Linked DNA regions of Homo sapiens. The protein of the gene in region 1 purifies or fractionates together with the protein of each later gene. This does not show direct contact. Each region holds a gene or a part of one and is shown on either strand. Other genes may lie near its edges. The genes, in order: SELL and EMCN.

Evidence for each region.
Region 2: the proteins of SELL (region 1) and EMCN purify together in Homo sapiens (affinity purification with western blotting, with the first as the bait; one study listed by BioGRID). This does not show direct contact.

What each region holds. Positions count from the first base shown.
Region 1 is NC_000001.11:169,701,577-169,705,402, reverse strand, and holds part of SELL (L-selectin precursor), read left to right. Parts: intron 1-649; coding exon 650-835; intron 836-1,962; coding exon 1,963-2,148; intron 2,149-3,714; coding exon 3,715-3,826. UniProt on the Homo sapiens protein: Calcium-dependent lectin that mediates cell adhesion by binding to glycoproteins on neighboring cells. Mediates the adherence of lymphocytes to endothelial cells of high endothelial venules in peripheral lymph nodes.
Region 2 is NC_000004.12:100,511,445-100,515,270, reverse strand, and holds part of EMCN (endomucin isoform 1 precursor), read left to right. Parts: intron 1-3,826. UniProt on the Homo sapiens protein: Endothelial sialomucin, also called endomucin or mucin-like sialoglycoprotein, which interferes with the assembly of focal adhesion complexes and inhibits interaction between cells and the extracellular matrix.

The DNA.
Region 1 (3,826 bases):
GCATGGCAGGGTCTAAAATGTGAAAACTTTGATTTCCAAGTCTTAAATTTACCTATTGTACCACCAATCAGAACAGGGAAATAGATACAGTTTCTGGAGAGGGTTGTCAAAATCAAAAGAGTTAAAATTCTGGAACTGAGCTAGAATAGAAGACAGAATTGAGGTCAAAATGCTTCCTAGACTTTTATATTCTCTCCTTGCAAAGAAGGCTTATTATGGAGACCCACTCTTTCTCTGAACATCTTGCTCCCAATACTCTAGTAGACTCAGGGGCTCTGATGTGATAGTTATTTCCCGACTAAGCTGGTCATTCCCAGTTACACCTATTTGGCTTTAAGGATTCTCACTACAGATAATGCTGAAGATAATAATATGAAGACTAGCTAATGTTTACTTAGAATTTCTGATGAGTCAGGCTTTGTTCTAAGGTCCTTGACTTATGCTAATTGAATTACATTTAGTTTCCATATCAATTTGATAAAGATAACACAATTTCATTATTCCTCTTATATAGATGAAGAAACTGAAGTTGGAGGGTTCAAGTAACCTTGTTTAAAGGCACATGGTTATCAAGTGGCAGGGCTAGGATTCAAATCCAGGCGTCAGTTCCTCTTAACTCTTCCCCATACTGTTTCTTTCCCTATTGAAGTGATTCAGTGTGAGCCTTTGGAGGCCCCAGAGCTGGGTACCATGGACTGTACTCACCCTTTGGGAAACTTCAGCTTCAGCTCACAGTGTGCCTTCAGCTGCTCTGAAGGAACAAACTTAACTGGGATTGAAGAAACCACCTGTGGACCATTTGGAAACTGGTCATCTCCAGAACCAACCTGTCAAGGTGAGTAACTTCAGACTAGAGGTTTTGTCATGCAATCCTGGGCTTACAGTCAGAACATTCAGTAGAAGTTTGCTGAGAAGTCAAACTTAGGAGCCTAATTTAACCTAACTTTGTTTAACCTACTGTGATGTTTCTCAAAGGACTTATTCTAACTAAATTTTTTTGAAAAACCTCCCAAACAAAAAGTAAAAACCAAATACCCCTGAAGCCATCTCCCAGTGTGTAACATGACTTATAGCAATACAGCATGGTTATACTGTGTTTTTTATTTTTCTCATTGCCATTGCATAAATAATGTCTTGTTGAACCTCAGTTACATTTTGGTTCTTCTCCTCTCAATAACACCTGTTTTATGTGGTGTCCTACTTAATACCAACCAGTTTCCTTCCCAGGGTAGTGGAGGTCTTTCTTGGTTGTTTTATTTGGCTTATTCTTAAAATCACTTTTACTTTTCCTCATGCATAAACTTTTAGGAGAATAACAACTGAAAAACAAAAACACAATCTCTTGATCTTTTCAAGTTTGAAATAAGGTAGGTTTTTTTTTTTTTTTCATTTTTAACTGCCAACCTTATCTCCATATGGGAGAAAACCAATGTCATCTGAACTTACGAAGTTTTGGTTAACTTTTCTACAAGTATGCTCCTGATGCATTAGTTTAAGTAGTTTAATTCTTAGAAGTGCTATCAAAATCCCTTATTGAAATTATAAAACTGTCAACCCACCTACTGGAATTTACGGAAGTTGGACTTGCTTCAGTGAATTGGGATGTTTTTCAAAATGCTTGGGTAGATATCAGAACAGATGAAACGGCAGAGATTCTCTGAGAATATCCCATAAGAGCCCTTGATGCAGAGGCCATATGGCATGGTACTTCCAGCAGAAGGGGAGGGTCACCTTAGCTAGGGCAGCAGCCTGGAGTAGCTACTCCTCTCCCCACAGCTTTCAATGCTTCCTTGCCTTCATCTCTCATTCACCACCCACCATCATTCTCAAGAAAATAAAGCCTGGAAGCAATATCACAAGTAATGTAGTCAGGCAGCTTTGGCTAAAAATCCTTTGCTCAAGGGAGGGTCTCTACTCAGAAATACTGTTTTGTCTTTTTTTTTTTTTTCTTTTTCATTGAAGTGATTCAGTGTGAGCCTCTATCAGCACCAGATTTGGGGATCATGAACTGTAGCCATCCCCTGGCCAGCTTCAGCTTTACCTCTGCATGTACCTTCATCTGCTCAGAAGGAACTGAGTTAATTGGGAAGAAGAAAACCATTTGTGAATCATCTGGAATCTGGTCAAATCCTAGTCCAATATGTCAAAGTGAGTAAGTTTGTCCTGGAAAACTGAAATCTTAACGATGGAGCTGATGGATGAGCAGATATGAGGAAAGACATACATAAACATTTACATGTTGTTTTGCTAAGAATATGTGGCCTAGAAATAAATTTGTATGCTTAACTCACTGTAAAATCTTTGGCTGGTCTTTCCTCCTCCTTTAATGACAATCATTTCCTTTTTTTGTTCTCACCTCTTGCCATCTTAACTCCTAAAATCTGAACTCACTGATTTACTTTTTACCCATTCTTCTATTCCACTACAATCTAACATCTCTGTTAGCCCATTGAAATGCCTGTAAAAGGTCACTAATGACCACCTACTTCCCCAAATAATGGATACTCCTGAATCATCACTAAGCTAATGCCTCCAAAATCTATCTGTATATGAGAAGAATCATGTCTTGTTCATCTTTGTATACCCTCCACCTGACACAGTGCCTGGCAATAGGTGCTAAAGCAAATGCATGTTAAGCTAGCATGTGAAAGAATAGCTACCTGTGTCTGCTCCTGAGACTATCTGCATGGATGACAAAAGTCTTTAAATGGTAGGATCTACAGAAGCTGTCAGAAATGCTGATCTCTGTGTGCTGCGTGCCCAGGGCCAGGGAGTAGAGTGGATGAGCAGAGAGAGGCAGGGAGGCCTTTAGCAGAGGACTGTGTATTAGGCCTATCAGAGACATTTCCCTTTAAGGCCTAGCTAGTGTTCATTTCCTCCTCATCTTCATCAAGCCAACAGGTACCTTCTGTCTGGAGCTCCTGGGAACTTGAGCCTTCTCTCAATCATATATTTGGGTGTGGGGATCAAATCACCTTGAAAAGGTTCATCAAAGTAATGGGAAGAACTAAGGATAGAATCAGACCCTCTGCCAATATGTAAAAAAGTAGATTCCTTCAAATGTTAGTATCAGGAGACAGATTTTTTTTTATACCAGTATTTTCAAATAGAGGCTCCCAAATGAACTTAGTTTACACTTACAAGAGTATCTCTAAACATGCCCTTTTACTTATTCGTGAAGGAAGTAGAGGGAAGTGGTAACTACTGCATTGGAAAGAAATTAGTGCAGGTCCTTGGCATGTAAAAATCAAGTGCTTATTTTTGCACAACTGCTTTAAAGTAAAAGCATTAATGATTTCCTTTGACTGGTGAATTATCCAGTTCAGATCATTGGCTTTTATTTTTCCTGAAGTTGTATTAGGCTTTTAGCTCTTCTCTGTGTTTCAGAGTTCCAGTCATTGAACAAGTCCATGGAGCTAAATACAACGATGACCATTCTTGCCAACATTTTTAGGTGCATTTTCAGGAACTCTATGAACCACAAATCTGGGCATTGAGATTCTGTAGGCATTAGACTAGCAAGGCTGGTCCAGTCTTTGCCTATGCTGTAGACTCATCAGGGGCCTTCCCATGCCAGTTTCCTCATCTGTCAAATGGCATCAAATGGGCTACTACTGGGAGATGTAAGGAGGAAAAAAGTCAAATATCATGAGATAGACTAAGGAAATAATGCTGGTGGTCTCATGCTATGTGCCTTACTGATTTCTCTTTCAGAATTGGACAAAAGTTTCTCAATGATTAAGGAGGGTGATTATAACCCCCTCTTCATTCCAGTGGCAGTCATGGTTACTGCATTCTCTGGGTTGGCATTTATCATTTGGCTGGC
Region 2 (3,826 bases), on another chromosome or scaffold:
TGAGCTTTTGACTTTCAGGGCTGAGAGAAGTTAATGAAGAGAGATTCCTCCAAGAAGAAGGAAACAATATGCACTTACTCATCAAGTGCCACTTGCTTTTTGAAATTTGCCTTAACTTGGGAAATATTAAAATGTTGTAGGCATTCTCAGACAGGGACAAACACCATTTTCTTTATTGGTATATGAAGAAGGATTTAATTGCTTGGAGAAATTCCTTTGTTAGTGATTGAACATTCAATTTCATGAAAAAGAAAGATTAAACACACTATCAGCAGACTCCATGCTAAATATCGTAAGTTTATAGAACTTAATAAAAGTTAACCCTCACCGTAGAAGTGGGGGAGAGAGGAAGATGAGGGAAGTTATTATCAATTTGGCTATATTGTAGGCTTTAAGAGGTAAATAAAGAATGACATAGAAAATTTACAACTAGCCTGGTTTTGGATGTAAGGACATCTGAAACGGCTACATATAAAAGTGGAAATTATTATAAGCTTTGAAGCTTGAAAATCAAGAGGTTCTAGAGGAAGGGAATTTATTGAGTAGATACATTGAAACATTGGTATATTCTAGTCTAGAAACATAAAGAGGTCACAATTTGGGCATAGTTAAGTACTGAGAAATAAGATTGGAATATAGCCTCAGGAGATATTGAATACCAGGATGAGAAATATTGACTCATATAGTTAATTAGTTTGAGTCTGTAAATGGTTTGAGTATGGGAATTATATGATCATGGCTATAAAATGGGAAGACTAATCTGTCAGCAGAATATAGATTAGACTACTGGAGTCAAGAGAAATAAAAGGTAAGGAAACTAGGTCAACTGTCATTGCAAGTCTGAGAGTGTGTCAATAAAATGAAAAGAAGGGTCTAGGAAGAGCTTTAAGGAAGTAGAAAGTGTGTGATTTGACATATCATTGACTGGCAGTGAAGGAGAATGTGACTGAAATGCAGAGACAGAGTTTTTTTTAATACCAGAAATAGGAAAATGGCTTGGGAGCAGAGATTAGGAAAGATATGAGGAGACGGTTTAGTGAGAAAAATGGTATTTGGTTTTGGACATGGTGATTTTGTAATCCTGATATTTATGTAGAGATGTTCAATGGTAAATTAAAAGTGTCTGATGCGTAGTCGGTATGCCCCTGGAGCCAGAGGTGATGTTGAGAGGTGAATGTTCTTTAGTCCTGAATCCAAATATTTCTTAATCTTGCCCATTGTAACATTAATAACATAGAGAAGCAATTTATCCTTCTTCTGGATGCCCGTATATCTAACTCTCCTAAGGTACTTATTTCCAATTCTGTCATAGTTATTTGCATGAATGTCTTATTTCTCTACAAGATTATAAGTGCCTTGAAAGTAAGGGCTATATTTGTTACAGATTGCTCAGCAACAGTTCTGAACACATAATAAGGACATAGTTGTCTGAATGAATGGATAATTGAATGAAATAGTTGCCTTCTTATTATTTTCATATTTTAATTTCTTCCTATGACAATCACCTAATAGTTTACTATCTTGTCCTTATGAAAAAGTTATGGACAAGTATGAATCAGAGAACATAATATAGAAAAAAGTCGATTATTTTGATTTCAGTTATGAAAGTGAGCACCAAATATAAGGGAAAGGGATTCTTATCAAAGGTTAGCCAGCTCTCAAACTATAACCACTTTGGGGAAGAATATCTAAACAGAACCAGCTCTACTTATTTTTGGGTATCAAATACTCAATGTGATACATTCCTATAGTTAAAAGTATTCAAGGAGCTACCTTATTCTCAACCAACTTCTCAAAAATACAAAATGGCTTTTTTACAAGTGAAATTTACAGAAATAGAAGTTGGAGGAAAGTTAAAAAAAATCATACATCTTTATGCGTCATTACAGGTAACGTGAGTTGCTTCAGAGTAGATAATTTTGCTAAGTACTTCTGTTGAGCTTAATCCACACCAGTATCTCTTACCTGAAATGGGTAGTCTATTGTAGGAAGACTAAACCAATATAGAACAAATCCAAATGGAAAAGTATTTAGTCTGCAAACCATTTCTTTGCATTCTTTCTCCACTGCTGATTTTTAATAATCCCCACCTAAAAGTAGAAGTGATCATTCTAGAACTCCTACTTTCAAAAGATTTATAACAGTTGTCAGAAACAAATTCTCTGGCAATTTTATCTTGAAAATTGTAGTTATCCAGACAACTAAGAAAAAAATGAATATTTAAGGGTTTCACAAAGCTTTGAATTTACTAGACAACTGCCCATCCTTTCCTTTTCATTGGTGAAGTTACATTTCAAGCTGCAGCCAAATATTTTAACTTGTGAATAATTATCTAATTCAAGTTACTCACATTCTTTTTTTCTTAGTAATCACTTTCCAACTTCCTCTTTGTCTTTAAGAACAACATGAGATGCACGTTTCTAAATACTGAATGTCAGAGTAGGAATTTTTTTTTTTTTTTTTTGAGATGGAGTTTTGCTCTTGTTGCCCAGGCTGGAGTGCAACGGTATGATATTGGCTCACTGCAACTTCCGCATCCCGGGTTCAAGCGATTCTCCTGCCTCAGCCTCCCAAGTAGCTGGGATTACAGACACCCACCACCATGCCCAGCTAAATTTTTTTATTTTTAGTAGAGACAGGGTTTTACCATGCTGGCCAGACTGGTTGCGAACTCCTGACCTCAGGTGATCCACCTGCCTCGGTCTCCCAAAATGCTGGGATTACAGGCATGAGCCACCATGCCCAGCTCAGAATAGGAATTTAAGTAACTTTCAATTCCTGTGTACTGAATCCTTTCCAGCTACTGAATTCCTATCCATTATAGGTCTGTTAGCTTAGGCTAACAGTACCTTTTGACTGATAGAAGCAGCTCTCTCAGTTAGCAAACAAGATCCTTTTTGTACCATTGCACACCATGGGAAACATTAGTGGTGTCAATTACATCTAGAAAGGGCACTATATGGTTCCCAAATTTGGGGCAACCATAAGAAAAATAGATTTTTAAAACTTGAATAGAGGTTTCATATCCTATAGAATGATATATGTAGAGATAATCATAATTAGTCCCAAAGTAGAAGAAGTCACCGTATGAGCATTAGATTCCTGTTGTGTCTTTCCCTACATCTTCTCTGGCCACGTTTACTCCAGCCATTGCTATGGCAACCAGCTACGCACGGGTGTAACCTGACAGCCGCTTGCCTCACTTTAATGCATATATCCTGCTTTCTTTCTGGTGCTATTCTGTTATAAAGGTGCATTTCAGAATCTGGCATTATCAGATGCCTGAACTAGAAGTGCAGGAGCATTAGCATTCTATGAGACAGCTCCTGACAAAAGAGGGAATGGAGTCACTGAATACATAAATGCTTTTCTCTTATATTCCTGCTCCAGTTTCATTGTTTTAGTCCTTTTCTCCTCTTCCTATTTTTTTTTTTATAAACTGTCTGAACAGAAGCCCTTGTTTCAGGCTCTGCTATTTAGGAAAACCCAGGATTTATTATTTTTCTTGATGAGAACATTTTAGTTTAGATGGTAGTGTATATCTAAGTAAAGATTAGTTTTGGTTTCTCTGACACTCTCATTAATATGTACTACCCTTCTTCCTTTTCATTTCAAAGAAAATGAAATATCTTTGATCAATCTTTTGTTACATAAGCTTAACAATATTCTAAACAGATTCTGTTCTAAGGCAATTATTTGCCTGTTTGCAGTAATGAATTATACTGTGAGGTTAGTAGTAAAAAATGTTGATGTCATTGATTTTATTCTTTCTGTACTTCTCAACTGAAATGTGAACTGTTTTTTTAAATCCATTGAATCAGTCATA